Regions from separate parts of the Homo sapiens genome. Here all the other regions are linked to region 4. The links come from fine-mapping of genetic effects on gene expression. A gene starts in region 4. Each other region holds a variant in brackets. All regions are shown on one strand. Distances are from middle to middle. Region 1 has its middle 12 kb from the start of KRT2. Region 2 overlaps KRT4 (keratin 4). Region 3 overlaps KRT1 (keratin 1). Region 4 holds the start of KRT77 (keratin 77).

Evidence for each region.
Region 1: its variant is fine-mapped to the expression of KRT77 in whole blood (INTERVAL, PIP above 0.99).
Region 2: its variant is fine-mapped to the expression of KRT77 in whole blood (INTERVAL, PIP above 0.99).
Region 3: its variant is fine-mapped to the expression of KRT77 in whole blood (INTERVAL, PIP above 0.99).

What each region holds. Positions count from the first base shown.
Region 1 is chr12:52,660,088-52,668,193 of GRCh38, forward strand. No RefSeq gene overlaps it. Among named protein-coding and RNA genes, the nearest start is that of KRT2, 12 kb to the left of the region's middle. The variant C/T (reference allele first, on the strand shown) is at 4,551.
Region 2 is chr12:52,801,804-52,809,909 of GRCh38, forward strand. It overlaps KRT4 (keratin 4), which reads right to left. Exons shown (of 9, transcript NM_002272.4): 4 at 7,580-7,675; 5 at 6,883-7,047; 6 at 6,491-6,616; 7 at 5,841-6,061; 8 at 5,556-5,590; 9 at 4,746-5,447. The coding sequence ends at 5,266. Among named protein-coding and RNA genes, the nearest start is that of KRT4, 8.3 kb to the right of the region's middle. The variant G/A (reference allele first, on the strand shown) is at 4,146.
Region 3 is chr12:52,671,178-52,679,283 of GRCh38, forward strand. KRT1 (keratin 1) reads right to left here. Exons shown (of 9, transcript NM_006121.4): 2 at 7,365-7,579; 3 at 6,986-7,046; 4 at 6,473-6,568; 5 at 6,139-6,303; 6 at 5,882-6,007; 7 at 5,098-5,318; 8 at 4,533-4,567; 9 at 3,559-4,440. The coding sequence ends at 4,016. Among named protein-coding and RNA genes, the nearest start is that of KRT1, 5.2 kb to the right of the region's middle. RefSeq lists an enhancer at 3,723-4,223. The variant C/T (reference allele first, on the strand shown) is at 4,805.
Region 4 is chr12:52,700,020-52,708,125 of GRCh38, forward strand. KRT77 (keratin 77) reads right to left here and starts at 3,505. Exons shown (of 9, transcript NM_175078.3): 1 at 2,873-3,505. The coding sequence starts at 3,415. RefSeq lists an enhancer at 1,578-1,747.

The DNA.
Region 1 (8,106 bases), 40 kb before region 4:
GAGCTAGAGGAAAGAGCACTGCCAGGCAAGGGAGGGGCAGGACTGGGGTGAGACCTGATGATGAGGTTGGGAGACGCCAGTTTATGTTTCCTCACTGGTGTTTCAGCAGCAGCGCATGGCACTCAGCTCTTTGCCTGGCATTGATGGGGAGCAGCAGGCCCTGCCAGAGATGACCAGGGTCCCTTCAAAGGACCAGGGGGCACAGCTCCTCATCACTCTCCCCAGGCTGATGGAAGGAAAGAGGACTGAGAAGGAAGCTTCTGAGGCCAGGTTCAAGGCAGACCTGCCCTGCTCTACCCTGGTGGAAAACCCAGGCTTTCCAACACTGGGCTGTTGGGCCCTCTGCCTGTCCCCTGAGTCTTTTCTTTGCCTTCTGTCCTCATATAAAAAGTGACTACAGTATCCCAAGAGAAAACATTGAGAGGGATCTTCTGTTTAGGAAGAAAAGCTGAGTAATGTAATTAAAAGTAATAGCCAAAACCACAATAATTTTTGCACCAACCTAATATCACAATTAATTATCCTTGCATGGTGCCTTGTAACAAGCAAAGGCCGCCTGTGTACTGGTTAAGGACATGGATTTGTCCAACACACCTGGGTTGAATCCCAGCCCCACCACTTATTGGCCTCTTGGCCTTGGAAATGTTACCTACCCTTTTGTGGCCTCCATTTCCTCATCTGTAAAGTGGTGGTAACAGTAGAGTTGACCTTTTAACAACCGAATGGTTAGGGGGCATGACCCCTCTTGCAGTTGAAAATTCAATATAACTTTTGACTACCTAAAAACTTGACTACTATTAGCCTACTGCTCACCAGAGGCCTTATTGATAACATAAGCAGTCAACATATATTTTGTTTGTTTTATATATATGTTATTGCTGTATTCTCACAATAAAGTAAGCTAGAGAAAAGAAAATGTTGTTAAGAAAATCATAAGGAGAGAAAACACGTTTACAGTACTGTACTGTATCTATCAATACCATAAGCTTACATCATGTGTTTGCAAGATGAATTATCTATCATGTCAGAAATGGCAGGCAACTGCAGCTGCAGACCTCAATCTACGGTACATATCAAGCAATTCAGCTTTTTTTTTTGTAATGTCATGGTTTTTCTCTGCTTCTTGGGAGCACTTCCAGCATCACTAGTGCCACTCTGCATGGGTCCCATGGTGTTATTCAAGGTTTACTGTAAAGCACTAAACATGATGAAAAATATGCGAGAACCTCCAGAGATCACTTTTTACTGCTATAAGCAATTTACTGGGGGAGCTAATTGCTCTTGTGGAGATGACTAGCATCACACAGTGTTTTAATGGCAATACCTGAGATCACTGAAGTAGCAACAGGAGGTGGCTACAAAATGATTACAGTAGCACATATGTATCACAGTTAATTTTAAGCAGTTATGATTTAATAATGCACCTTTACAGTTGCTTACATTTCTCTTGACTTTGGCACTATGTAGAGTCCGTGTGTGCACACATTTTGATAAATTTTAACTTTTCATAACAGATTTGTGTATATTTTATGGGAGTAAGTGATAAAATAGACTAGTATCTACATATATTTTATGCATTTATGACATGCCTAACTTTTTTTTAATTTTTTTATGTTTCTAGGATACAAGTTCATCTTCAAGTTTTTTCAAATTGTCACAAATCTCCAAAAATTTTTCCAACATATTTACTGAAAAAGAATTCACATATAAGTGGAGTGGTGCAGTTCAAATCTGGGTTGTTCACAGGTCAACAGTAGTACTTCAGAGTTGCTGTGAAATAAGTGATTTATGTGACACAGCACAATTTCTAGCACAAAGCAAATATTTCTCCTTTCGCATTATCTGTAGAAGTTATAGTAAGTGTCTAGAACTTCCAACATTACGTCGATTTTATGTTATTGCCACAATCTCCTAGCCTGCATCTTGCCACCTGATCATGCACCTCTTTCCTTAGCTTACAAGCCCACCCTAACCCTATGCCCTGGAGCTCCCCCGCTGTCTCCGGTCCTGCTCCCAACTGGTGGTCCGCTGCTCCCTGCTCAGGCACTAAGTGGCCATTCATTACAAGGCCAGTGGCCATGGATTTAGGATATAAGCCCTCCCTTCATGAATGGGTATTTCTTTTAAAAGAATGAAGCATAGGACCCCACTTTGGCCCCCAAGGAAGCAGTCCTTCCTGCGTACCCAGGCTGCACCGCTGCTCGTTGGCCCCATCCCACTCCCACCCTTGGGTGCCTTCTCAAGGAAGAGCAGCAGTGCTGATGATCGCTCCCTTCATGTATTACTTCAGGTCCCTGTTGCATGTGTCATTTCACTTTGACACTCTCCCTCTGAAGTAATTAGGGCAAATGTTATCTCATTTCACACATGACCAAACTGAGCCTCTGAGAGAGTGAAGAGACCTGCCTGAGATCACAAGACGAGTGGTGATAAGGCTTGGCCCAACGTACTCAGAAACCACATCCTTCTGGGAGCCCCACTTCTGCCCTCCCCACCCTCATTCACCTAATTCCCTGTTCCCAATGCAAAGATTGAGTGAGAGTGCTCTGCCCTCCTACAGGTTCTCCACCCTACTCTGGTATCTGTGCTAACAGCTCAAAGACATGGTAGAAACCATTGTGGCTGACATCTTCATTTCTAAGATGAAGACACTGAGTTCAGAGCTTGTCAAGGCCTCATGAATAAAGGGTAACAGAGCAGGAGCCCAGCCCCGCAGCTCCTCCACCTCGCCACACCAGCCTGACAGCACTGAATTTCAGAGCCAGAAAAGGCCTCAGGTAGACCAAAGTCAGGGGCTTAATAAATACTGCAGTCAACGCTCAATTACCCATAATAATGGAAAATAGGAAGCAAATAGGAGTTGTGTCCTTTACAACTTCTAAATCTGTCATTGCCACACTTCCCCCAGGGCTGTTAAGGCATCAGACCAACTGCTCCTCCTATTCACATCCCTGCAGATGGCCAGGAAAGGAGCTAATAGGGTGGTTACAGGGGCAAGATGGTCCAATCCTTGTTTTATCAGACTCCTAGTAACCACAGCTTGATGACTGTCCTGCTATAGGACAGACTGCATTTGCCCAGGTCCTGCCAGCTGTGCACCCCTCCATGGTGCCACATGGCAGGTCAGAAGTGCCAATGAGGTGGCATGAGGCTCCTGCCACACCACCTTTCCTCAAAGCCTTATGTCTTCATCATGGAAACCTTGTTTATCCATTACCAAGCCAAGAGAGAGGATTACTGAGAAGAAGGCAGCCAAAAACAGGGCACTCCCTTTGGAACCCAGCGGGGTTTCTCCGATCCCAAGCACACCTTAGTAGTTAGCACAGTGTGAATGAAGACAACCAAATGTTCATCTGTGAATGCTAATAATGAATGGTTACAACTACAGGATCAGCTTGTTCTTCCTTCAGGGACATGGAGGCAGATATCATGTTCTCCATTTGCCTAAAATGCTCTTCCAGCTCCACCAGGTGTAGAACAGAAGGAAATCAACTGTGCTGGCATTAGCAGAAACTTAAGACTGATAACAAGAGGGACTAACCAACTACTCCATTGCATACAGAGTAGGAATGTGGAGGGTAGGAATGTCTGGGTTGTTGGGTCTGGAAAGCTAAGCTAAGAACCTGCCTTGCCACACACTTTCCCACTGTCCATATAATTGAGGTTAATTAAGGACCTAGAGCTAGGGAAGGGGCAAGATGGCCTCACCTCAGACCTTGTCTCATGCACACCTCTGCATGCAGACAGGTGACTACAAGCCAAGATGGAGCTTGCCTCACGGGATCTTCTTCCCAAACAAGAGTTCCCTTGCATTGGAACTGGTAACATCCCCAGGGATCCCACCTACTTCACCCAAATTACCATCAACCCACCCTCCAAGACCCAACTCAACTCAGATGTTCTCTCCCCTTGACTGATGACCCTGGTGTGATGTGGCCCCCTCCTTCCTGTATTCCTCCAGTGCTTACTCTGTCCAGTTCATTGACCAACAAAAACTCACTAATCACTGCAGTAGAATACACATTCTGCTGCATCCTCAGGATGAAAAGGTAAAGAAGACACAGTCCTTGTCCTCAAGAAATTCATTATTCCATAGGCACTCATTTCTGTGGAGTAAATATACCTACCATGGTTGATCTCAAGCAATCAACACGGTGTTACTGAACATGGAGTTAGGAACAAAAGCAGGCAATTGGCTTTCATAAGCTGGTGCGGGAGGGTTCCAGGACACCGCTGGACATCATATGCCAGAAGCAAGGAAACATAAATGGAAAAGTGAGGCAGGAGTCAAGGAAGGAGGAACTATGAACTGGCTTTTAAAGGATGAATTCGAGTCTACACACAGAAAAGGGAGAAAGGAACTCCAGGAAAATGGAGAGACATTTGCAAAGACCTAACAGCATAAACATGTGTAAAAGTTTGGTGTATTTGGAGAATGACAGTACCCTCTCCCCTAAGCCTGACCCAGATGAGAAACTGGTTGACACTCAACCTCTAACAGATGCCCATGACAGGTGTCCTGTGCACGTTCTCAGCCGGGACTCTGATGG[C/T]CCTGCCACCTGCCTCCAGCCTGCCTCCATCCAGCTCACCCCAACAGGGCCCGGCCTCTGTCCCATGCAACCTCAGGAGAATCTTCTCTATGTCTGTAGGTGTCTGGGCAAAGGACAGCTGTCTTGAGGAGAAATCATACCAAACAAGGTTTTAAACTAAGGTCAGATGTCCTCATGCATGTTTAATCATCCTGTTCTATATTTGGTGACCTTAAGGACAGGTCTTAAAGAGATGACACCCAGTCTTCTATCCCAAAGGCCACTCGTCCCAAGGGCATAGCTGGCAGCACCTGTCTATGGCTGTGGCTGAATTTCGACGGCCCTTTGCTCATCTCCCTAGTAAAAAGTAAGGCACTTGCTGAAGTCAAGAATCCCAGGGCATCCCTAGAAAGACCTCAGAGGCGAGGCCATCCTGACTTAGCTTTCCCTGTCCAGTTCTCCTAGGACCTACTGTTGTGACATCCACTTTCGCCCCATCAGAAATTCTCCACTGGTGAAGCATGTGATAGACTATATTCCCACCCCACCCAGGGACCCCACTTAGGAGAACTGCTACCCCCTGAGGTCTTTCCTAAGAGATTGGGCCCTAAATCCTCCCAGTCCCTATCCGCTCACCTTGCTAGTTACTTGTCTCGCTAGGTAGGTATGGTCACCAAGGGCCCTCCCTGGCCCAGGATTGGTCAGACATAGCTACTCCTGATGGCCAGTTGAACTCAGCCTGCCAGAGACAGCTCCATTATAACCCCTTTACCGAAGGAAATATGGTCTAGGCAGGTGAAAAGACACCCAGTAGAGCCAATAAATGCACATTTCAGACCTTTGAATGTGCTTTTCTAGGACAACATTCCTCACCCAAGGGGCCCAAAATGAAGGACCCCATGTGTTGTTTTGTTGCGGGATTCTTAACCCATTTTGTCGGAAATAATCAGAAATAAATAAGGCATGCCCCCCACCCACTCACCCATTTAGGACAACACAAATCATTGGAACAGACATACTTGCAGCTACCTATATTATGTTATTAATGCCAGGACACAGGCAGGCAAAATGGGATGGGAACACAAAAGAATGTTTTTTTCCCCACGGGAGAGAGAAGGAGTCACAGAAGTTCTGGCATTTAGCTGGACCTTGAAGAAAATGTTAATGATCAATATTAAAATACATGCTAATAATTATACTTACTTTCTGGTTACAGCTGCATTCATTCATCTTTACGTAGGAAGAGGGTCTAGAATGGAAAGGGAAACTTAATAGTTCTTAGTTGAGGTGAATTTTCTGTTCATTTTAATTTTCTTTCATATGGTTACTATGCTGTTTGTGCAATTTTTCAGTAAGGATAAAAAATACATCCTAGTAATTTCATTTGGACTATTTCCCACCCCTCCCCTTTAAACATCCTTATGAGGTGGCTGAAGACATAGCTCCTTCAAAGCTGGAAAATTTCTAAAGCTATAAGGAACTGCATGGCAACCGGGCATGATGGCACATGCCTGTAGTCCCAGCTACTCGGGAGGCTGAGGCAGGTGGGCTGCATGTGCAGCCTCAGGCTGGCCTCTCCTTCATGACAGACCCCCGCCTGTCAACACCCCCACAGGGTGTACACAACAGGAAATTGACCAGGATTGAACCAAATCCACCATAAACAACCCCTGCTCAAGAACTGAACTCCAATATTTTTTAACTGAACAAACATAAATGTTCACCAAAACACCTATAAGATCAGCTCAAACCAGAACCAAACCTTTATGCTTTTTAAAATAACTGCTCAAAATATTCTGGGAGTTGAGTCTGGGAATCTTGGGAAGGAAAAAAAAAAGAGAAAGAAGAATCTGGAGGACTTGTAAGGAGAATGGGGAAAGAAGGCAGCCTTGGGATCTCCAGGTTGGAAGTGGTCCAATTTCCGAACCAGGGCTGGACTCTCTGCTCAAGTGCCCTTGCCTTGGGAAAGACCCTTCTACTTGTTTCTCCAAGTCAGCTTAACTCCTCTCACAAGACAGCTCCTGCACTGTGGGGCAACTGGGCCGGGGTGAAAGTTCTTCTTTAGAGTGACTCCTGTAACTTCCAAGCAAGAAGAGGCTGACTCTCTTCCCTACAAACTATGGTGTGGTTTATCTTCATTGAAAGTGACCATTGGCCAGGTACAGTAGTTCACGCCTGTAATCCTAGCACTTTGGGAGGCCAAGGCTGGTAGATCACTTGAGCTCAGAAGTTCATGATAAGCCCATCTCTAAAAAACATGGAAAACCCCATCTCTAAAAAAGAACAAAAATTGGCTAGGTGTGGTGGCGTGTGCCTGTAGTCTCAGCTACTTGGAATGCTGAGGTGGGAGGATCGCCTGCACCCAGGGAGGTTGAGGCTGCAGTGAGCTGAGATTGTGCCACCACACTCCAGCCTGAGCAACAGAACAGCACCCTGTCTCAAAAAAAAAAAAAAAGAGGAAAGGAAGAAAGAAAGAAAGAAAGAAAGAAAGAAAGAAAGAAAGAAAGAAAGAAAGAAAGAAAGAAAAAGGAGGGAAGGGGAGGAGAGGGAAGGGGAGGGGAGGGGAGGGAAGGGAAGGGAAGGGAAGGGAAGGGAAGGGAAGGGGGGAGGAAGGAAGGAAGGAAAGAAAGAAGGAAGGAAGGAAGGAAAGAAAGAAGGAAGGAAGGAAGGAAAGAAAGAAAGAAATCATCACACCCCACCCTCAGCCGTCTTCCTTGATCTTTTTTCCAGTCCTTTCTCTGCTCTAGTTTTTGCCTCTGTGCTCACATTAGCTTTTCAATGGGTCACTTTAACTTCCAAGATGCTCAGGACTGAGCTCAACACCCAGAGAAAAGAGCTTTCTCCCACGATCAAAGATTCTCTGTATCAGGAAGGATTTAGCTGCTTCCTTATGTCTTTGCAACTTGTGAACAGAATCAAGAGAAGTCTTTTTGTTTCTATTTTTCCCAGTAAGCTTTCTGAAATATCCAAAGGATGTAATCTTCATCCTCACCCTCCCTGGGAGCCGCTGCGTTGTGGTGACCATCACAGGTACCATCATTGCATGTAGAGAAGCCTTTGTACCAGCAGAGGACACTCCATACTGCCTAGAGAGAATACGCAGGGCCTATTGACAGATTGGAAATCGGGCGTGGGCCCCTGGGAGGGGTGGGGATAAACCCGCATGAACTTGGGAAGGTCGCAAGTTGACTAAGACTGCGCCATATTTCTGATAATGGATTGGCAGGGAGTGTCAGGTTCCCTCCAGCAGATATGGGAGTGGCAAACACGGTGACACAGAGCATCCCAGGGCATTCTGAGGATCCAACCTTTCAACAAACAAATAAATTTGCTGGCACCGCCCAGACATCTCGTGGGCATCTTCACTCTCCCTTTCACCCAGCACAAGGCTCCAGCCCACTGCGGCTCCAAGAGGCAACTTTAGAGACCACGTTTCTGGCCTCTAACTGTAGTCAGACTATTATCCATGCCCCCTTCACCAGGGAAGGGGCCTATAGTGCCACTTCCTCCCCGCCACCTACCCAAATCTGGACCCTATTTCTAGACTCGTCTCAACTTGCAGCTCCTCCACGACTCA
Region 2 (8,106 bases), 100 kb after region 4:
TCCTGGAAACATACCCTCATAGGAAACAAGAGTGGGAAAGGAGGCATGGCCATGGCAAGGCTTAGCATTACAGCTGCGTGGCAGGGGAGGGAGGTGCAGAGTGGTGGTTCCCAGACTGCAATTCAAAGCACATCATGGGCCTCCAGGCCACACCCTGAGAGCAGGTGGCCCAGAGCTATCTCCTCATCCATTTCTGAGCTTAATCTCTCAGACACGCCTTGTTCTGAGCTTGTCTAGTCTTAGAACATAAAGCCCAAACCCCAAACAAATTGGACAATGGGCCAACCCATGCCCTCCACATCCTGGCCTCAACCTTGCTCTCTAGCGTCCTCTCCCACCACTCCCTGCCCTGTCTTGAGTGATGCTAAGCTGCTTTTGGTTTGGTACTGCACTGAGCCACACTTCCCTGTCTTTACTCTGCAATTCTTGCTGCCTAGAGCACCCTGTTCCCCTGCACCCCTCTTGCAAGCTCCAGGTCCACACCCCTTTTACATGGCTGACTTCACAGCTGTCACCTCCTCCAGGGAGACTTCCTTGAATCCCTGGCAAAAGCAAATGATTCTCCCTTAGGCTTCCAGAGTCTCAGTGCTTGCATACACCATTGCTTTTAACATTTTCCTGAAAGTATGGAAAATGTGTATTTAATGTGTCTACACTCCCCACACTCACTCACCATTTTCACATTAAACTCTGCCCTTCTCAAGGGTGAGGACCACGCTGCAATAAGCTTTATATCCTCATGGCCCTACACAGAGTCTGACACAATGTAGGTGCTCAACAATGCTTCTCGAACTGAAGCAACTGCCCCTGCCGTGCTCTTGGGTGGTGGATTCACAGGAGAAGGAGCTACCAGCCCGATGGGAGAAATGCTGCAGCTTCACAGGACACGACACAGAAAAAGGAGTGTGACCAAAATCCAGTATGAGGAGGCCTAAGGGAGACAGAACAGCAGGATATTCCAAAGGGGTGGAGCCACTCCTAGAAGACTTCTAGACGAAAGGACTCCTCTTAGGTATCAGAATCTTGCCCTCTGTAAGAAGAGCACCTGCCCTGTCTCTAGCATCTAGGGCCTGCTTCTTCCTCAAGACCCCACTTCAATACCGCCTCCTGCATGAAGCCTCCTGTGATTGCCAACCCCTCACTCTAGACTAGAAGTAATTTTGCTACCCTCTGGACTGTCATGTCCTTCATTTGTAACTTCCAAAGGCATTCATCTGTCTGTCTGGTTACCAAGTTCTTTATGTGCATGCTTTTATCTAGACATTATCATCTGTATTAAAAGCTCCTTGAAAACAGAGTCTAATTCTTCTTTGTATAATGGGTCCCCATTGCCCAGCACAAACTAGGCACTTGGTAAACATTGTTCAATTAACATTTGTTAAACAGCTACTATATGGCAAGCACAGTGGCCCTGGAATGTCAAGATGAATAAAGTCATGGTTCCTGCCCATAAATAATTTATAGACTAGTGGTTTGTTGAGTAAATGAGTGAATGGCTGGGTGGATGGATGGATGAATAGATGGATGATGGATGGATCATAGATGGATGGATGGATGGATGGATGGATGGACGGATGGATGAGTAGATGGATGAATGGGTGGATGGCAAATGACAGTCCAAACACTTTCTCCAGAAAATGTCTTCCCAGCTTATCTAGCTTCTCACCCACTTTCTCGAATTTTTAAGGATCAAATCCACAACACTCAAAGTAAAAAAACTGCAGATGCAGAACAATCCTACCTTGACCCAAAGCCAAACCAGAAAACCATGGGCAGCAATGAGCCTGAGTCCTGGGGCTCCCACCACCAAGACCCTTCATGGCCACAACTCTACACTCCCAGCCCTCTTAGTGGAATAACGAGATGACTGTTCAGACCCTACCATCAACACGGGAAAAAAAATGGAACAGGTGCTAAAATGGCTTTTTTCCTTTCAGCCTGCTCCCTCCCTTTGTCCCTCGTTGGCCCACTGTTACCATGTCCTGAGGGCCCACAAAGGGGGCACAGCCCCCTCAACTATTTCCCCACGTAGCTGTCTCACTAAACCCTGAACATCCACCCAAGACATGGGAGCAGCCATGCCTTATTCTGAGGTCCTCTGGTCTTAGAACACAAAGCCTGGGCCCCGTCAGCAAGTTAAAACAAAACCCCACAGTGGGACATGAAATAAGCCCCTCTTTGCTATAACCTTCTGGGTTTACTAGCAACGAGGTAGGGAGACTTCAGAAGTATTGGTGAGAACTTTCTGGAACTGAGAGGGCTGAACCCAGAGCGGAGGGTCTTGGTGAGGTGGGAGGGATCTATGCAAACATAGCAGTTGTTCAGGAGTTGACAGGTGCCTGAGCCAAAGTGATGGTGGGGCTGCAGCCAGGGCTGGGAGCCAAGATCTTGGGGAATGGAGTCAGGGCAGATGAGCCAAATAAACCAAGTTAGAGATTTGCCAACCTGCAGTTGGGCTCTTCAGATGTGAAAAGTGATTTCCGTATACTTAGAGGTAAAGGATTTAAAAGAAAAGGGAGAGCATGGGGCCTCCAACGGGGTAAATAATGCAAGCCATGTCTCCCTGTTTCCTAAGCACTAGGAGCTGGCCAGAATCCAATTCGAAGGATCAGAGAGAAGGGTGGTGTCTATTATCTCAGCAGTATATTTACCCCAAATAATCCCCTCTGACTAGCCAGCCAGTTTCAAACATATGAATCAAGGCCAGGATCCACTCTCCTGGACTGTTCTAGAAACAGAGACCAACATGAGGGCTTTTCCTTTTTATGTAAAATAGAAGACTTTTTTTTGAGACAGAGTCTCACTCTGTCGCCAGGCTGGAGTGCAGTGGTGTGATCTCGGCTCACTGCAACCTCTGCTTCCTGGGTTCAAGGGATTCTCCTGCCTCAGCCTCCCGAGTAGCTGGGATTATAGGCGCCTGCCACCACACCAGGCTAATTTTTGTATTTTTAATAGAGACGAGATTTCACCATGTTGGCCAGGATGGTCTCGATCTGTTGACCTCATGATCCGCCCCCCTTGGCCTCCCAAAATGCTGGGATTACAGGTGTGAGCCACCGTGCCCGACCTAAGAGACTTTTTATATAAATAAGAAACGCTGACACACTCACATAGCCATGTGCCTATGAATACAAACACATTTATTCTAAGATGCACATACACGCGTATAATCTACGGCCTGACCTTGCAGTGTAAATCACTGAGTTCAACCAAAGAGATGCTGAGAGGCACGGAGGGCTGCTCAGGCTGGCTGCTCCCACACTCAGGGGGCATGAGAAATGCTTTAACCTGCCCCTTGCCTCTCTGTGAGGCCCAACACAACCTGCAGCCTCCTGGTGGGTGAACCTGAGAAGCTCCACCCCTAGTTCCAACCTTTAACTCCTCCTCACCACTCCCAGAAACTCAAAAAAAAAAAAAAAAAAGAGCCCATCTGCATTTTGCCAGGGGAGGAGTGCAGCCCTTGGAAGAAGCCAAAGCCACCAAATGCAGCTGCAGAGACTTCCTGTTCTGACACATGGGGCTCAATGAGCCCTAAGACAATGGGGATATTAGGGCCAGGCTGATGAAGGACAGAGCCCAGGTTGCTCCTGGCAAAGTCCCCTGCCCAGAGAGCACAAGCCCCTGAGATTAACCCTTTGCTACTCTGTCCCCGCTTTCCCAAAGGCAGAACAACCCTGAGCCTACCTTGGATCTGCACGAGACTCCCATGGGCAAGGACTGGTCTTGGGCAAACGACGTGCCTTTCTGCCTGCACACCATGAGGCCCCATGGACACAGGGCTGGAGGAACTGGAGTCTGAATGAACTCTGCGGCAGTCAAGGGTGGGAGGCACAGTAGGGTGGCCAAGGCAGAGAGTGCATTCTGCATCTGCAGCAAACTGATTCGAGTCAGACTGCAGAGCAGGAGCTGGGAAATCTTTGGAAGAGGGGAGACTGTGCTGCTCCAGGTACTTGGAATTGGTCCAATATAGAAAAAGGGTGTCCCCAAATCTACCCAGACCCCCACCTCTGACTGTCCTCTCCCCGCTTCTGTAATTAGACAGCTCCCTCCACTCCTGCTCCAGAAGACCTGCTCCACCTCCAACATTCTTCGCCACTCAGGGACAGCACCACAGACATAACCCCAGGCACCCCTGAGGAGCTGGG[G/A]AAGTGAGCAGCTCATGAAAACTCTAGGAGAATGACACACATGCACACCTCCCTCCAACAACCGTGACCTTGTTGATTCTTGGAACAGGTTCCTGAAAGCCTTGTTGGGCCAGTGAGATTTAGCCCCATGCATGGAATTTCATGAAAATAGGGAGGCCTTGCTAGACACAGAGTATAAGCACTCTCATAAGCTCCATAACTTCTTGCTCTATATTCAGCAGAGACCCCTGGCCTGCTTCTCTCACACCTATCAAATGCCCCCCACCTGCAGACTTAAACCCCTTCCCTCCAGGTTTATTCCAGGATCAGCATTGAAATGGTGCTACCCCAGGGTGCCCTACAATGGACAATGTGTGTATAATTGTTGGATGCCCCTTCAATCTGTACAACTGCCCTGTAGGCAACCTTCAGCCTCTGTACACTGTACTTCTCCCCCAATAATTTGAGTAACTTAGAAGTAGAGACCTGAGAAACTAGTCGATGACCCAGATCTGTATAAACAGATCCTTCACACCCGCAAGCATACACCTTCACCAAAATTATCTAGTTATACAGGATTCTAGAGACCTCTCCCCAGGGAAAAAAGACCATTGCTCAGAATGAATGACAAAAGCATTTTATTGAAGATTCACCTGCAGATGGATAAGAGGGAATGAGAGGAGTAGAATGGGACACTAAGTGGTTCTCATCCTAAGCTTGCAGGGCCAAGTGCTGCCGGGTGTTGGAGAAGTAGTTTGGTTCTGATGTAGATGGATAATACAGGATCTAGTGGGAGATGGCATTGGACTGGGAAGGGACATATGTGACCCCAATAATTCTGGAGATGACACTCCTGGTCATTTTCTTCTCTGTCCATGGGAGGTGAGAGGTCAGCTGACATCCTTCCCATTCCAGGTGGGTCACCAGGCCCAAATCAAGAAGTAGCTACCAAACTCCAAGAGGCAGAGTCCCTGTCCCAGCACAGAAGATCATCCTGGGGCAGAGAGAGCCCATGGGATAGTGGAGGGGATACTAGTAAGATGAGCCCCAGAGACAGAGGATGGAGGTGAAGTGAAGGAAGCACAGAGACACCAGTGCTGGGCCCAGCTGGACACAGTGAGCTGCAGGGACCTCGTCTCCTCTATCGTCTCTTGTTCAGGGTGGTGGTAGAGATGATCTTGCTGCTGGAACTGCCAGAGACACTGCCACCAAACCCAAAGCCACTTCCAGAGCCGGAGCCAAAGCCACTACTCAGGCCAAACCCGGAGCCACTTCCTAATCCTCCGCTGATGCCTCCAGTGCTGGTGCTACCGCTGACCACAGCTGCAGAAAAGACACAAAAGACACAGTTATTCCAATGCTGCCAGCACCCCAGGGGTCTGGCAAGACCCGGGTGAATGAACAACTACAGCAGGCGTGGAAGGTACTTACAGATGCTCACGGCACTCTGGCATTCTCCAGACATTCTGTAGGGGAAAGAAAAGGCGGTGAGCCTCAGGGAGCACAGAATTTTGTTCAATAAGCATGCCTCACTCACCTCTCTTATCCTTGAGCAGCCTCTGAGTTTGAGGGCCCAGTGTGAACCTATTAGCTGAGCTGTCCTGGTTCGTAATGCACCGGCACAACACTGATGCTTGCAGCCCGGCAGAGGCATAAATAAGCTCATGGCCCTGGACCTCTCTGGCCCTCATGTTCACACCCTGCCTAACCCCTCACCTGTACTCCTCGCCCTCCAGCAGTTTGCGGTAGGTGGCGATCTCGATGTCCAAGGCCAGCTTCACACTCATGAGCTCCTGGTACTCACGCAGCATTCGTGCCAGCTCCTCCTTGGCCTGCTGCAGGGCAGCCTCCAGCTCTACGCGCTTGCTGTGGGCATCTTTAAGGGCATTCTCACCTCGCTGCTCTGCATCAGCCACGGATACCTGAAGAGTCTGGCACTATTGACAAAGGCATTAGATAGGTGGTCAGCAGTGCCCTGCCTTCAAGGCCTCTACACCTGTCCCCTCCCCTGGTCCAGCTTTCCTTGGGTTAGGATGTCAAGATTCTATCTGTTCTGCCCACTTTCCCTGAGACTTATGCATCTCATTCACTCCAGCCATAGCCCACCAATGCCTCCACCAGACTGATTAAATAAAAATGAGCAAAAACCCATGAAGAAGAGCCAAGAAACCTATGCACAGGAGCGTCATGGTGTGCCAACTAGGATATTGCTGAAAAAATCTGGGTATGCCTTGCACAAAGAGCTATGAATTCCCAGCAACAAGCTCAGGGTCTTCTGGCCTGATGCTTTATCTGCTTGTCCACTCTGGAGATGTCTGCCTGAGGCCCCTGGCCTTGTGCTCCATCTGGAAGGGAGTGACACCCACCTGCTTCTTGATGTTCTCGATCTCTGCCCGCAGCCTCTGGATCATCCTGTTGAGCTCTGCAATTTCACTCTTGGTGTTCTTCAGGTTGTCACCATGTTGGTCAACCGAGATCTGGAGCTGCTGGACCTAAGACTCAAGAAGACACAGAGAACCAGGTGTTAGGGGCATTTGGGTAGGGTCCATTCTCAAGTGAACTCAGTGAGAATTGCCACAGGTGGCAAGAATAGCACCAAATGTCAAGTAGTTTCAAATCAGACCAGGACCAACGATGCCTGGGAGAGTCTGTTCATATCTGACTTCTATTGGGCTTGAGCTAATGATCACCTGTTCACAGACATCAAAAGCAGAGCCCCAGAGCCAGCCCCATCTCCTGAGAGATCCATACCACCCACCTTGGTCTGGTACAGGGCTTCAGCCTCAGCCTTGCTCCTCTGGGCAATCTCCTCGTACTGGGCACGGACCTCGGCAATAATGCTGTCCAGGTCCAGGTTGCGGTTGTTGTCCATGGAAAGGACCACGGACGTGTCGCTGACATGGGTCTGCATCTGGGACAGCTCCTGCAGGGCAAATGTCTCACATCAGCCCCCCCAGGAAAGCCTTCACTGACCTGATACAGGCTCAAGTAGGAGCAGAGCTGGCATTCACAATGTGTAGGAAGGGGAGAGACAGGTAAAGTTCTAAGGAGAAATCAAGTGGTTGTGACAGTTCAGGATGGAAGAGCAATGCTTCTAGTCTTTACTGGTCCCCAGGAACCATAAGCCACTCTAATGCAGTGAGTGCCGGTGTGTTGGAATGGAAGGGAAGGGAATGGATCCATTTCACCAGAAAAAAAATGCTAGACAGCAATGAATTCTATTCCAAGCACTCTTTAGATCTAATCACCCCGTCTAAGACCAAGACCACATCTGGTTCTAAGAATCTCCCAGTTGAATTTCCCACTTCAAACCTTTCTATGCATGACCTTGATGAGAACCCACTGCCCTAAAATAAGGGAGCTGGAGTCCTTTCAAAAAACTGTGAATCCCAACCAGCAGCGTCACAGATGGGGGATTCCCTTTCCCTGGATGGAGGGGAGGATGGAGCCCTCACCGCATCATAGAGGACCTTCAGGAAGTTGATCTCGTCATTAAGACTGTCCACCTTGGCCTCCAACTCCACCTTGTTCAGGTAGGCAGCATCCACGTCCTGCAGAGGAGTAAGGAGGATAAGAGATGAGGAGCAGGAATGCCAGTAGGAGGACGGGTTACTAAGTGACACCGACAGGTGTTCTCAGCAGCATTTAGGAAAGACTACTCAGCAGCAGGGGAGCTGGTGGGAGACCAATTATTTTATATATTCTTCCCTAGAGCCACCTGAAGACATGGAAGTTGATTATCCAAATAGGCTATTCTAACAGTATGGAGATCTCTCAAAGAACTAAAAATAGAACTACCATTGGATCCAGCAATCCCAGTGCTGGAATTCCACTCAAAGGAAAAGAAATCATTGTAACAAAAGGATACCTGCACTCATGTTTATCGCAGCACAATTCACAATAGCAAAGATACCAAATCAACCTAAGTGTCCATCAACAGATGATTGGATAAAGAAAATATGATACATATACACAATAGAAT
Region 3 (8,106 bases), 29 kb before region 4:
CTCACCCAACCGCATCCTCATCCAATCTATCACCAAGTCCTAATGATATAGCAACTAACTATCTCTGTAATGCATATTCTCATTTCTGACCTTCTACTACTTCTAAGGGCTGGAATTAAAGTGCAAGTCCCTATCGTCTTTTGTCTTCACCTTTGCAATAGTCTCTTAAGTCTTCCTGCCTCCAATATGGACCTCTCCAATCTGCCCTGGCTGACTTTTCCAAAACACCAATCTGACCATGACACTCTCCTATTAAGTACTTTTACCAGTTCCTCCTCACCTATGACAGCTGTTTCTGACATAAAATTCCTGAGGGAAAAAGACATTTCCATAAATAGATCTCCCATCAGCAGACCAGATTTCTTAGGGAATACTTGGAAACAAGACAAGCTGTGGTCCATACCCAATTCCTACTCCACTAGCAGTAAGACAACCCCTTTCCCTTCCACTGGACCAGTACATAGTAGGTCTAATAATAGATATGAAAACCCCATCTGAGAACTTGTGACCCAGAAGCCAAAGTCCAGACTCCATAGAATGCCAACAAGGCCCTTCTTGATTGGATCTGGATATCTTTTCCGCATCATTTCTTGTCACTAATTCCATGCTTCTTCAGATGCTTAACTACTTCATGAAATTTCACTCTTCTATGTCCTTATCTATATGATTCCCTCTGCCTTGAAGATCCTCGTCTGCCTGAAAAACTCTGATTCATTCTTTAAAGCCCTGCCAAGCATCACTTTCAATCATCTGTGTTCCTGTATATCTATTTCTGTGTCTTGGATGTATCTCTACCATTGCTACCACCCAGGTCTCTAGGCTCTCTGAAAGCAAGAACCATGTCTCACTCATCATCATCTCCCCAACGCCCAGTTCCTCATACATAGTATTTGTGCAGAAAATGTTTTTTGAACAGAACTGAATCCAGAGTCTTCCTTTATCGTCTTTCTAATGTGGATGCATTTTGGCGTTTGGTCTAACTCAATTTACTTCTTCACTATATACTGACTTACACAGGGTTTTCATTTAATCCTTGTAACCTTACAAGCCTTGGTAAGTTTCCCTGCAAATTGTATTTTTCTCTGTTTCATGACCTTCCCATAAAAACTCGAGTCCAAAGAAGATAAACAGGAGTATCCCCAGTACTGAAATGTGACTAAATAAAGTTGTAACCTAAGAAAGTATGTAGAAAATCTGGGCCAGAGTATAAGAACACATCACTGTTCATTCAGTAGCGTCCCTGGGAAAGAGGTGCTATATCTGTTGACCCCAGAGGTCAGCTCTTCTGTGAAGGAGAGTGAATCATCTCCCTCAAGGCCACCTAACTCTCATTGTTCTAAATCCACAGATCAAGCCAGCTCTTGTCAGTACTTTAGTTTCCCAGATCTCTTGATAACAGGATGGTATTTCAGTCACTGGAAGTATGTGTTTCCCCACAAGCTAATGCTGGACATTCTGGTTGACACATCCTTCATCTCTTGTGTGTTTGGTTCCCATAAATCAGTACTCAGGAGCAGATTCAACTTTGGGTGCACTAACAAATCAATTTCCTGTCCCTGCAGAGCTGTCACTGAGCCACAGTGACCATATCAAGGTACTTCCCTCCATGGAGGCCCTGAGCAGCCAGCTGCCTTTTACTTTTTTGTCACTCCCTTTTTAATTCTTTTAGCTACTCTGTATAACACATTCACAATTCACAAAGGTTTTCACGTTATATTTCTTTTCCTCTTGATGTCTAGAGGAAAATATTCTCATTCCCATTTCTCCTACAAGACAACTTAGGCTCAGGATGGCCAAGTCACATCCAAAGATCCACACATCTTATAAGCTATAGATGCCTTTTCTTTGCCTGCCCTTTAAATAGTACAGTTCCTTGTTCTTTCTACTCTACCATAGTGCCTTTCAAATTCTGACATTAGTCTGAATGGAAATGGACATGGTGGTGTTTCATCCAGCTAAACCCACTGCTGGACTCACTCTGACAGTGACAGCAGGGGAATTTCCATAGGGAAGTGCCCGGAACCATCCCAAAATGGAGCCAGGTGGGATTCCAAAAAACAAAGCACTAAACACCAGGGTGATCAGTGTGCAGTATTTAAAAGGAGGACTAAAGGTTCAGAGTGAAGTGCAGCATTCTCACGGTGGACAGGGACATGAGGGATGTTCTAGCTGGGTATGTCTGCAGTTAAGGAGTCAGGTTATGGAATTTCATAGACGAGTTTAAGGAATTTGGCTCAGGGCGAAGGCTAGTTTCTGTGTGTTTAACAAAAGGGCTATTTCCCAGTGTTTCCCAGCAACAACTAAACAGCTTTGTCAGTGCCTGAGAATGCCCGAGACCCAGCTTTGCTTCAAGCCTGCAAAGGAAAGCATGCAGCTGGCCAAGTGATGGAGTAGACAAGGCACACTGTGTTTCCCGGTCAGGACACAGAAAGACAGCAGGGGACACTGGGGTCCCTACAGAAGGGATAACTGAGAAGGAAGAATAGAGCTCACCTGAGTTGTGTTTGCATAATACATGTGTGATCTATCCTCTCCTTATTCCATTAGCCCTGTGGGACTCTGGAGCTAAGAAGACTTTTCCTAATTGGAAACTAAGGAAATTGATCCTCAGAGAAGTTGACTGCTTTTTTCACGTTCAGAGAACCATTACAAAAATTTTGGTAACTTGCTTCTTTGAGCAAGCATCTACTGAGCTGTATGGAGTCCCACAAGCAATGTTACGTCATCATCATCATCATCATCATCATCACCATTATCATTAAAACTGGCACTTATTTAGTGCTTGCTGTGTGCTCAGCCCTGTGTATTCATCTTATTCAATCCTCACACTATTCCCACAAGGAAGGCATTATCATCCCCAATTTAGACATACTAAAACTGAGGTGCAGAGATGTCTGTAACTTGCACTGTATTACAGAACTAGTAAATGGTGATGGTAAGATTCAAACCCAAGCATATCTGAGTTCAACTGTCCATGCTTCTGGCCACTATGCTATCCTGTTGTACAACTTCACAAGTATGAGCTATGTGTCAACAAGGGAACTTCTTAGATTATGCAGAGCTTTGGGTGGTGGCACAAAAAGAGAAGGGAAATGGAATATCCAACTCTCTATTACCACTCTTAGTTCTTGAACTCCCCAGGCCAAAGTCTGTATTCTGGCTCCAGTAACTGCTGACCCTATATTACTCATGCCCCTCCTTACTGGCTGTTCCACGTGAAGAATTACTTTTTCATGCAATACTTTCCCTTCTTCTCAATGCCACACCTCTTCCTCCCAACCTGCTTGCTCACTGCCCTTTTCAAGAAAGCCTTCTCAAATGAACAAAACCTGTCACCCGGTCTCTCCATTTCTCCATGACATCCCCACCATCTGGGAAAGTGCTTGCTCTCTCTGTGATTCCAGTCTGGTGAAATGTTGCCTGGTTGGCCTCTGCATTTTTCTCATGTTTGTGTGCATGACTTTCCCATATGCCATGTGGCTCTAGTGTCTTCTTTTACCTCACAAAACACCCATCCAGGTTAGACAGTGCCGTAAACAAGGGCGATCGAGACATGGAGAATTTCAAATGCAGTTTATTGCAGCAAAACAAGGAAATGGGGAGTTTAAGACCTCTCCACAAAAGAAAAACAACTTGCTTACACCTTATGTACAAAACCAAAACAGCACAGAGATAAGATGCTAAGGAGCTGTCCACACCCTGGGTCTAACTGGTCCTACTCTGGCTGGCTTAAGGAGGTGCTTTGAAATGTCATGTGGGTGGTGGTCACTGCTGAACTGTTTCTCAGGGAAAGAACAAAGCAGGGTCATAGCCAGGGGACTGAGATTGCCACTGATCTGAAAACTTCATTGGGAAACAGCAGAAAAGAAAGAGCTGGGGGAATAGGATGAGCTAGTGTAACTAACCATAGCTCTTTTCTCCGGTAAGGCTGGGACAAATCGACCTCGGTCTTGCCAAGCATATTTGTTAGTGATGCTGGGGGAGAACTAGAGCTAATGAAACAGAGGGCATCTCTTTATCTGGTTACTCCGGAATAAGTGGTAGAAACAAACTTCACGCTGGAACTGCCACCAGAGGACTTGACACCCCCAGAGCTGGATCCCCGGCCTCCTATGGAGCCTCCAGAGCTCCCGCCGCCAGAGCCCCGGCCGCCAGAGCTGCCGCCGCCGCCGCCTCCAGAGCCACCTCTGTAGCCCCCACTGCTGCTTCCGGAGCCGTAGCTGCCATGGCCGCCGCCGCCACCTCCAGAGCCATAGCTGCCACCTCCGGAGCCGTAGCTGCTACCTCCGGAGCCATAGCTGCCACGGCCGCCGCCGCCGCCACCTCCAGAACCATAGCTACCACCTCCGGAGCCATAGCTGCTACCTCCAGAGCCGTAGCCACCGCCGCCACCTCCTCGGCTGCCACCTCCACTGATGGTGGTGTGGCTTGTGCTCACAGCTGCAAGAGGAAGCTCAGTTATTTTCAACCTCAACTCCGTTTCCAGCCCAACAAAGCCTGCACATGCCCCTGAGAAATCGACTTGTACTTACACACACTCACGTTCGGGGCACATTCTCCAGACATCCTGTAGGAGAAAATAAGAAAATTCCTCAGGACACTCCAGCTTCCCAAACCGCTTCCCCATTCCCCGCTCCACCACCTTGAAGACTTTCCCCATCTGGGTCTTCTCCAATGCACTTAATCTGAAACTTAATCCAATCCCCTCTGGCCTCCCAGACCTGTCATTTTTTCTCAGCAAGAGTACAAACACGGAGAAATTCCCATATAAACGAGACAAGAGCCTTGCAGCCAATGAAGGCCC[C/T]CTCTAAAGATGCCGACTTTAGGCCAGCTGCCATCTGAGGCAGCCCAGATAAAGAATAATTTGCTCCACCTCAAAGCTCTTTCTAGATATGTTACAGCCCTAGAAGAAAAAAATAAACAGCTTGGGACTCCAGCTCCCAAAGTAAAACTAGGTCCTTCCTCCTGCTCCGTGTACTTTTCATTTCCCCATACCCAGCACAAGCTGCAATCAGATGGCTGCATCTTCAACAACAATCAGCTTGCAAGGAAGGAAGACCATGAGAAGAGGTTCGACTCCCAGCGTCCCTTCCTCACCTGCTTTCTTCTCCCTCCAGGAGGGTCCTGTAGGTGGCAATCTCCAGATCCAGGGCCAGCTTTGTGTTCATCAGCTCCTGGTAGTCGCGCAGCAGGCGGGCCAGGTCTTCCTTGGCCTGCTGCAGGGCATCCTCCAGGTCATTCAGCTTGTTCTTGGCATCCTTGAGGGCATTCTCGCCACGCTGCTCTGCATCACTGATGGACTGCTGCAAGTTGGAGATCTGAAAAAGAATATGACACCCTCTCATAATATGCATTCCCCACTAGGCCTCCTCATCCCAATTGGTCTCCCCACTCCAGTGAGGCCAATAATGAGTCCAACAGAACCACTTGGCCTTAAGTCATCTCACACCCACCTCCAGATAACACATCACCATGTTGACTTCCTTAAAAGACCTTAGGGATAACTCAACAGCCTCTCTTGGCCCTGAGTCAAGGCTCCTACAACCCTTACAGACTTGACATTCTTCTAAACACCTACTCTAAAACCTCCTGGCTGCCCTTCCTCTCACTCCCCAACTCTTAAGTCCACTTTGGGTCATAGGCTAGATCACTCACATTGACCATCCCATCTTTCTCTACTAGGCCATTCTCACAGATTTCCCTAAAGAGAACCCAGCATGATGGCTGCATTCTGGAAACTAGCATAGTCACAAAAGGAACCAGGGATAATAATGTAGCCTTGGGATGAATTGCAAGATTCAAAACTAGGAAAGCACTCGCCCTTTACCTGAGGGTTACCCCCATTCCATACAGCTGAGTGGTAGAAGGAGAAAGCACATACCTGCTTCTTGACATTGTCGATTTCAGATCTAAGTCTCTGGATCACACGATTCAGCTCAGAAATTTCTATCTTTGAATTTCTCACACTATCCCCATGTCTGCCAGCAGTGATCTGCAGCTCTTCATACTAAAGATGGTAGATAGCGTTTGTTAAATGTAGGCAGAACTCAGCATGGCACAGGCACACATACATGAGATAACACAGGATAGCAAGACAAGCCATTTCAGGGAAACTGGCTAGGCTTTCAGCCCACTCACCTTGCTCTGGTACAAGGACTCGGCCTCAGCTTTGCTCTTCTGGGCTATATCCTCGTACTGGGCCTTGACCTCAGCAATGATGCTGTCCAGGTCGAGACTGCGGTTGTTGTCCATAGAGAGGATGACATTAGTTTCACTGATTTGAGTCTGCATCTGAGACAACTCCTGCAAGACATAATAGGTTAGTGACTCTTACAGCACTAAAACAAAAAACAACTTAGACAGAGAAAGCAGTCAGAAAATAAAAGATAAATATCTATTCTTCTGAATCGTTGTGGGTTCAGGCTTAAAAACTCTCCATTTAGATAAACTTGGTTGAAACTGGAAGACTTACTGCTTGGTAGAGTGCTGTAAGGAAATCAATTTCCTGCTGCAAGTTGTCAAGTTTGGCCTGAAGGTCCACCTTGGTCATATAAGCACCATCCACATCCTAGAGGAACAAGGGACATCATGAAGGCACATTCTCTCCAGGGCAGGTCCCTCTCATTACCTGTGAGGGGATTCTCCAAGCAAAAAAAGGAGCTTTGGGTCTACTCCACTCCTTTTTGCCCCAGGTAAATCACAGTTCCCTAACTGTCCCACCCCCGGATAGCACCATCAAGGGAGTGTGCCTGGCTTGCTGAGAATCTGCCACTCCACTTACTATGTAAGGTGCTGGGAAATATGGAGAAGCCAAGTGCCTGGATCAGTCCAGGTCCATGATGATGTGAAAATATAGCCCCACTCCATATACTCCCCAGGTCTACTACCTGGCTCTCCATATCATGGCTGCTTTCTGCTTAGTAATTGGAGACCCTCTTCCCTTATTTATTTCAAATGTGAGTTCCGTCCTACAGAATTTGCTTACCTTCTTGATGGTCACAAATTCATTCTCTGCATTTGTCCGCTTGTTGATTTCATCCTCATACCTGCAGGAAAGCAGAAACAATTAGGAGATTCAGAGGTGGTAAGACCTGAAGTCCAGCATTCTAAACTAAAGGTGGCATTGCCTATCACTGCCTTTCTATTATGAACCTAGGACATATTGGCCACTACTTTCTACTGAGCAATAAAACCACTAGACTATTTCCATCTCCTGAGAAAATGAAGATTTCTGAAAATGTCAAACTGATGTGCCTCTAACCTAAGAAAAGACATAGCTACATGCTGCTTCATGATCTTAGCTTATTACTTTCTGGAACTCTTTTACAGCAAAAGTTAAGAACTGCCCAGACAGGGTCCCTTACTTGTTCCGGTAATCCTCCACCATGTCCTGCATGTTCTTCAGTTCCGAATCCAACCGAGATTGATCACTCTTCAGTTGGTCCACTCTCCTTCGGAGATTGTTGATGAATGACTCAAAGTAGGGCTCTAAATTATGGGTTCTAGTGGAGGTATCTACCTGCTGCAGCAGCTCCCATTTTGTTTGCAGTACCTGGTTCTGCTGCTCCAGGAACCTCACCTAAAAACACAAGACCCCTTTACTCCTGATGCATAAATGGAGTCTCATAGCCATGGAGAACTGTGCCTCATTTGGAAAAGAACCTCAATTCCTATCTTCTGACCATGACAGAGAAATAGGAAGAAGATGATCAAGTTAATATCATCTGCATAATAAAACCCAACTTGTTAATTCAGAGAGGGCTTGGAAGGGAGTAACTAAACAAATACCAATAGCAAAGCGCATACAGAATTATTGCAATTATGTTTTGAAATAGGTGCATGGTATTTAAGAGATTTGCCTTCCAAAATTTTGTTAGGTATATTACCATAAAAACTGGTTTGCATCCCCAGGACACACACACATTTCAAAAGTATATCAGGAAAATTCAAAATTGGATTTGAAATTTGTTGTGGATAACCTTGGATTGGCACTATTAATGATTAAGCAAAAAATTAAAAAAATGGTTTATCTGAGTTTTTTAGAGCTGATTTTTGGAGATATTAGTATAAAAAAACTCTAGCCTCATCCAGTACCAATGTAAAATT
Region 4 (8,106 bases):
CAAGGCCAGGCCAGTGTCCCAGGGGTAAGAGCTGAAACCCTCCTTTCCTTTCTGAGGCCCTGTCCCCTTGTCATTGGTTCTAGAAAGCCTTTGGCTCCATTTCCACTCTCTGAGCGTCCAGCACTGACCCCTGAGGGGCTGACCCAATTTGTCATCCGGTTTCTATTTATTGAGCAATTCTCATATGTCAGGCACTATTCTGGGTGCTAGGGATTTGGTAATAAAAAAAACAGGCAAAATCCCTGCTTTCCAGGAGTTTGCATTCTATTTAGAGAGATTACTATAAAGAAATAATCATGTAAAAAATACAGTGCCTCAGATGGCTGCAGGGACTATGGAGTCACACAGGGCCGGGGCATAGGAACACTGAAGTGGTGGTCAGGGAAGGCCCCACTGAAACTGTGGCATCTGAGCAAAGACCCACAGAAGGTGAGGGAGGAAGGTGGGCCTCTCTCTCGGGGGAAGAGTTCCATGCAGAGGGAATGGTAGGTGCAAAGACCTTGAGACAGAACTGAGCCTTGGATGCTGGTGAGCAAGAAGAGAGCAGGAGAGGAGGCAGAGGGGCACAGGAGGCTGCAGACAACAATGAGTTGGAAGCCTGGGGGCTGTTTTCCAGGCCTCACTCTGCTTACTAGCCATTGTATCCCGAAAGCTGTTCCACCCAGTGAGGGCAACGTGGCCTGATTCCACAAATGCAAGTGTGGGCTTAGCAGCAGCTGCGGGTTGAAGGGCAAGTAATATAGGGCCTTGTAGGACTTGGGCTTTTCTTTCAGTCGAGACAAGAAGCCACTGGAGGATTCAAATGGAGGAGTGTCGTGACATGCTTTTAAAGGATGGCTCTGCTGTGGTGTCAAGTATAGGCTATACAGGGTCAAGGGTGAAAGCAGGAAGACCAGTTTGGAAAGCAGAGTCAGAAGTCACCTGTCATAGAAGCCTTCTTCCTTCCAGCCAGGCCACAGCCCACCTGGCTGAGAAGCCTCTCCTCATAGTCATCATAGGCCATGCCCTTCGAAGGACAGGAGGCCCAGGTCTCTTGCACCCTAGCCTCTGCCCACTGCCCTATGCCATGCAACTGGACAGACCCTGTTCATGGCAGGGGCCATAATCAGATGAGCCTCAGGAGGTCAGTTGCCAGCGGCCTGTGGTCATTTCCCAGCCCTTTCTCCTCCCTGCTCCTCTCTTGGCCCAGCCGTGACCTCCGAGTAGTGACTCCTTGCTCCAGTGAAACCCTCTAACCCCTGCCTTTGCCTGAAGCGTGGTGATACTCAGCCAAATTTCCCACGCAGCATGATCGGAAGCCACGGGAGCACGCTGCTGTGTTGCGCTCCTCTTCGGCAGCCTCTGGGCCTCAGCACTCTCACCCTCCTCCGCCCGCTCACACACTGTCCCATCCCCAGCATCTGCTCAGATATCAGAGGCCTGCCCTGCCACCCAGTATGGCCTCTAGCCACAGCTACCCTGCAGTCAGGCCACAGGTCAAGCTCTGGCCTCAGCACTGAACTCCCGTGGGGACTGAGGGAAAGTCACTGAGTGTGCAAGCGGCCTTGGTGCTCTGTGGGGCTTCCCACTGCATCCCTGAAGGCAAAGTTCCTCCTGGGGAGGTGCTAGTGGCCGCTGTGCCTCGACCTCCAGACAAAAGGAGATGCTGGAGGGAGGTCTTCACCATGGCGAGTTCTCCAGCCTCTGCTGCTGCTTTGGACCTAATCTGAAGTTTCAACAGGGAACTAGGGACAGGGGCTTCTGTGTCTCCATCTGGCCCATCCTTGGCCCTTGATGAGCCAAAAGGGGAAACTCAGACAGAACCCTACATTGCATGCTATTGACTTTAGCCCCAAGAGATACCCACCACCAGGGCATTCACCATGCCCTGCCTGCTTCTCCTGCCCTGGCTCTGTGGCTTCATCTCCACTTCTCTCCTCCACCCCTTGGTATCCCATTTTCTCCAGGAATTGTAACTGTTTGAAATTCCCTAAACGCGTCACGCTTTCATGCCTCCTGGTCCTTCTGCCTGAAAATCCCCTCTGCCCTGAGAACCCATTTAACTCGTGCTCACTTCGGCAGCACATATACTAAAATTAGAACCCATTTAACTTTTCATCCGCCTTCCAGACTCAGCAAGCAGAGCTCATGACACCCTCCTTTGAGCTACCATGGCCCAGAGAGTACTACCCCTATTGACACACTTCACATACACTGTAGTAATTCTCTCCCCTTTAGACGTGGGCTCCTTGATGGCAGGACCTGTGTCCTAGTCACCTGTAGCACCTGGCACGATGTCTGGCCTATCATAGATTCTTAGAAAATATTTGTGGGCTAGATGGGTGGATGGATGCATGAGTGGATAGTTGAATGGATTGATGGATGAGTGAATGAACAGATGAACACGTGTGTGTGTGTGCATGTGTGTGTGTGTGTGTATAAATGGATTGTGTGGATGGGTGGGTGGATGGATGGATGGACGGAAGGGTGGATAGTTGGGTGGATTGATGAATAAGTGAATGGATGGATGTGTGTGTGTGTGTGTGTGTGTGTGTTTGTGTGTGTGTGTATAAATGGATTGTGTGGATGGGGATGGATAGATGGGTGCATGGGTGGATGGGTGGATGGAAAGTGAATAATTATGAATGAGAATGAGGGTACTACACCATGTATCTGTTGAGTATTTTAACACTGCTTATCTCCTTTCCTGCCAAAAGGAAAAGATGGAATTAAATCCCTGCAAGAAGACAAATTGAAGCCCAAATGGGTAAATGATTTTCTAAGGTCCCAGGTCAAGCTGAAACAGCACGATGTGGTGAGAGGTGGTAAGGTGTAATCTCTCTCAGTCATTTGGTCAGTGACCAATGACCCTCCCTGCCCCTGAGGTGCTCACCTTGTCAATGAAGGAGGCAAACTTGTTGTTGAGAACCATAATCTGCTCCCGCTCCTGGGTCTTGATCCTCTGAATTTCAGGGTCCACCTCCAGGTGAAGTGGCTCTAGGAGGCTCTGGTTAATGGTCACCTCTTGGATGCCCCCAGGAGGACAATAAGGACCAAAGCCCCCAAGCCCAAAATTGCTAGTCCCAAATCCAGCACCCCCAAAACCACCTCCTCCAAAGCCACCAGCCCCGGTGCTGCCAACCCCAAAGCCTCTGCCCCCTCCAAATCCCCCTACTCCCCCACCCTGGCAGAAACCACTGGTGCTCCTCCCCATTAGATTAATGGAGATGCTTCTACTGCCACCCAGATTGTAGAGGCTCCTAGAGCCAAACCCCCTTCCATGGATCCCATATCCACCACCACCACACCTCCCTCGAGCATAACACACAGAACCCACTGCCGGACTCCCACCACCAGAGCCTGCAGAAGAGCTGGTACTATAAACCCGCCTGCTCATTGAACTAAACGCGGACTGAGAACTAAATTGGTGGCTCATGTTTGCTGGAGCATCCAGAGAAGCAGGCAAGAGAAAGAGCCTGGCAGGAAGGAGGCAGAGACCAGAGAGGAAAGGAGCTCTGACTCCTTTGAAAAGATCTGGCTCCGGCTCTATATATATACACACACACACACATTACTGGGCTGGGCACCTTTACAATCCTGAAAGGGGAGTATTAATGTTTAGTTTGCCTGCCAGCAACATCTGTTTAAAACCTCACACCTGTGAGTTGCAGAAATCAGATTGCAGACAAACTTCCCCAACTCGATCATTTATCATTCATCTCTTGCCATTTAGAGATCAGAATGCAAGAATCTCTCAGGATCTCATTGCTGGAAACTTCTATACAGATTCTCCCCAAATCATCAGTTCATCTCTTCCTAAGAAACTCCACCATCGAGTTGTTTGTTTCTGGGATGTGCCTGGGAGATCTGGGGCAAAGTTAGATGGTGTTTAGAGACCTCAGGACCATAGCTGGGACAGAGGTGGAAACACTTTCTGTCACAGCATCGTCCTGGTGGGGCAAAAGTTTTGTTCCAATCTCCCCACACACTGCTTCTGCTCCCTGCAGTTATCATCACCATGAGCACCCAAAATTTTATCACATGGAAGTGCAATATTGTGGTCACTGAGTACAAGTGGAGGCCCACAGATTCTGCCCAAGGTCATTCACATTGTGTGCTGCTTGATAAGCCTCAGACTTCTCAAACACAAAACCACACAAGGTACTTCAGCACCAAAAGTCTGTGGTTATAGATTTGTTGAGCATCTACCAGTACCTAATATTGTCTTCTAGACCAGAAGACAAACCATCCCTAACTATCTCTCTTTCTGTTTTATCATTTCCGGTTCTTTATAGACAATACTTTTGTAAAATAGAATTAAAGGAATTACCTCCTAAAGATAATTTTTTAAAAAAGATATACAAAATGCAAGCCCAAATTTTTTTTATTTTTAGATTCAGCAAACAAAACATTGTTTAACTGCTAAAAATAGCAACAATAATAATAATTTTCTAAATGGTTACTCTCAAATTCTGTGCTTACCACAAGGCAATAGCAAAGCACGGTAGACCAGCACTAATCTGTGCTCACCCTCTGAGAAGCACGTCCCAGACAGCATCCTGGGGAAAAGCTCATTCAGTGAGCATCAGTGTCCGCCAACAAAAAAATGTGCGTTTTCCCTCTGGACTCAAATAGCTGTGGCTTTCATCCAAAATGTAATAATAATTTTTTTAACTTGGGGAAAAACTCTCCAGCCTTAGAAAAATGGCTAAGCGATGGCTTGCCCAATTGGATACAATTATTTTAAATCATCTTGTTGGAGACTCTGCAGCAGAACCGGCAACCACTTGTGATACTATGTACCATATTAAAGGGAAAGGGCAGACTACATGATGGAGTCTGCGCTGTGAACTCATAAGAATTAAGAATGCAGAAGGCCGGGTGCAATAGCTCACTCCTGTAATCCCAGCACTGTGGGAGGCCAAGGCAAGCAGATCACTTGAGCCCAGGAGTTCAAAACCAGCCTGGCCAATATGGCGAAACCCCATCTCTACTGAAAATACAAAAAATTAACCAGGTGTGGTAGCACACTCCTGTAGTCCCAGCTCCCACGGGTCAGGGGGGCTGAGGTAGGAGGATCACTTGAGCCTGGGAGGTCAAGGCTGCAGTGAGCCCTTATCGTGCCACTGCACTCCAGCCTGGGCAAGAGAATGAGACCCTCTCTCAAAAAAAAAAAAAAAAATGCAGATAAGACAGACTTTGTGAGTAACTAGAAAGTGAGTTGATTTATTTAGAGACTGTGGGAGGAGTTTTCCTAGGTTCTTTTGTTTGTTTGCTTATTTTTTTGAGACAGAGTCTTGCACTGTTGCCCTGGCTGGAGTGCAGTGGCACAATCTTGGCTCGCTGCAACCTCTGCCTCCTGGGTTCAAGCGATTCTCCTGTCTCAGCCTCCTGAGTAACTGGGATTGCAGGTGCCTACCACCACGCCTGGCTAATTTTTTGTATTTTTAATAAAGACAGGGTTTCACCATATTGGCCAGCCTGGTCTAGAACTCCTGACCTCAGGTGATCCACCTGCCTCAGCCTCCCAAAGTGCTGGGATTACAGGCGTGAGCTACTGTGCCCGGCTGAATTTTCCTGGTGTTTTAAATGTCCTTTTTCTTTATGTTCATTGCAATAAATATTTTTTGCTCACGCCTTTAATCCCAGCACTTTTGGAAGCCAAGGCAGGCGGATCACCTGAGGTTAGGAGTTCGAGACCAGCCTGACCAACATGGAGAATGCCATCTCTACTAAAAATACAAAAAATTAGCCGGGCATGGTGGCACATCTGTAATCCCAGCCACTTGGGAGGCTGAGGCAGTAGAATCACTTGAACCCAAGAGGCAGAGGTTGTGGTGAGCCGAGATTGCACCATTGCACTCTAGCCTGGGCAACAAGAGTGAAACTCCACCTCAAAAAAAAAAAGAAAGTTGTGGCAGAAATCCCAATAGAGGTGGGGAAGAACAGGTGGTAGAAACAAGAGCACTGTGGGGGCGCCGCAGTGAAAAGTCATCCTGGTACAGGGAAATGCTCCAAGGGCAATTCCAAGCTTCCACACCCTCTTCTCATGAACCTCTGCATTCCGTACATGGTATCTGTTCAGTGGGTCATCCAGGAGACACTGTGTGATAGAGGAGACAATGAGCCTGAAATTTATAGGCAGAAGCTCTGCTGCTTGCTGGTTGTGTCTAGAGCCTCAGACACTTAAGGAACCTAGAGCCTCTCAGACACTTAAGGAACCAAAGTGTCTATTTCTCAAGGATTCAAAGCTATATATAAGTCATGTGGGGAGAAAAAAGCAGAGCACTGGAATCACTAAACAAGCAGAAATAGCTGCTCACAGATCCTGGTGGGATGACAGCTGTCCTGCTTTGCCTAGGATTTTCAGTACTTAAACCAAGATATACCTGGGCAAATCAGAACAGTTGGTCACCCTAGTCCTAGGCACCTATGGTCCACACAGCCATACTCCTAACCCTAAGGTAAGAGAGGGAAGCCAGGGCCTAGCCTCCAGCACAGAGTGACAAGGAGAGAACCAGTAGAAGCAGAGGAAGGAAAGAGAGGTGAAGCTAGGGAAAGGGGTGGGTTCATGTGAGAAAGCTGCCTGAAGACCAGGATTCTGAGTCAGATATCAGAGGAGAGGCAGAAAGAACAGAGCAGGGGGAAGAAGTAGGGGTCTGGCTGAGAAAATGGGGGCTGATAGGAGAAGGGACAGTAAGTACCAGACAGGAAACAGCAGTGGTGTGGCGAACAGATCCTTGAGTTGGGCATCTTGAAACCCAGCTCTGACTCCTGGCTCCGCCCCCTCCTAGCCCCATGGCTGGGACACTTGACTCCTTGAACCTCAGTTTCCTGACCTCTAAAATAAAGAAAATAGTAACCAGGCGGGCACAGTGGCTCACACCTGTAATCCCAGCACTTTTGGAGGCAGAGGTGGGTGGCTCACCTGAGGTCAGGAGTTTTGAGACCAGCCTGGCCAACATAGTGAAACCTCGTCTCTACTAAAAACACAAAAATATATAATCCCAGCTACTTCGGAGGCTGAGGCAGGAGAATCGCTTGAACCTGGGAGGTAGGGGTTGCAGTGAGCCGAGATGGCGCCACTGTGCTCCAGCCTGGGCAACAGAGGGAGACTCTGTCTCAAAATATATATATATATAAAATAACAGCTTTGTAGAGTGATAGTAATGAATGGCTATGAACAAATATGGAAGAGCACTTTGCAAGCCCCAAGGAGTCACACAAGTGAGGTTCTGTTCCCCAACCCCTCCCTGTGAACCCACCTCTCTCTCCGGCTGCACCACTCACTTTCAACCCCACCTCCTCCTCATGAAGAATACACATAATTAACCCCTTCGCATCTGTCTCTACTGCCACCTAAACAAACAGGAAGCTCCTTGCTGTTGGGACAAGACTTCATGGACCAGGAGCCCCTTTCTTCCTGCAACTGCTGGGCAGAGTGGGCCAATAACAAAGGCCTTCATGACTGAGCTAAAGTAAAGAGACGTGGACAGCTTAGAGAACCAAGAGCTTGGGCCCCACAATTAAGTGCCCCTGGAGTTAAAGCCCAGCTCCCCCCATGTACCAGTTTTATGATTGAACTAATCACTGAGTTCCCTGAACGCTATTCATCTGACCCTTAAATAGAGCACTTGAAGACAACAAATATTTTAAAAGGCTTGCTCTTACGAGAGGTGTTATTGTGTGGCTGTGGCTACAGCATTGAGACCTATGAATGCGATGAGAGTTTTTAGAAAGACAGGCAGCTGGAAAAGGCTTCACAGAAGCAAAGGCAAGCTCAAGCTAACCTCGAAGGATGTACTGTAGGCCAGTGAGAGGGTGCTCTGTTGTAGGGACTGGGACTGGGAAGGACCAGAGAAACTGCTCGTGCCAAGGCCTAGAGAAAGGAACGGGCATGTGAGGGGGTGGGATGGGGGAGCCATGAAGAGGCCCCCTTGCCTCGAGGGAGCAACTGGGAAACCCTGAGGCCTGAGTTTGGCTTCGGTCACAGAGGGCTCCAGCAATGTCTTTGAGTGGAATTTGTTCAGCACTCGCCCAGGTTTCTATATACTGTCATGCTGAATGTGAAAATATTCCATTGTGATAACATAAAAAAGGAAGTCCCGGACAGCAGAGTTTAGGAAG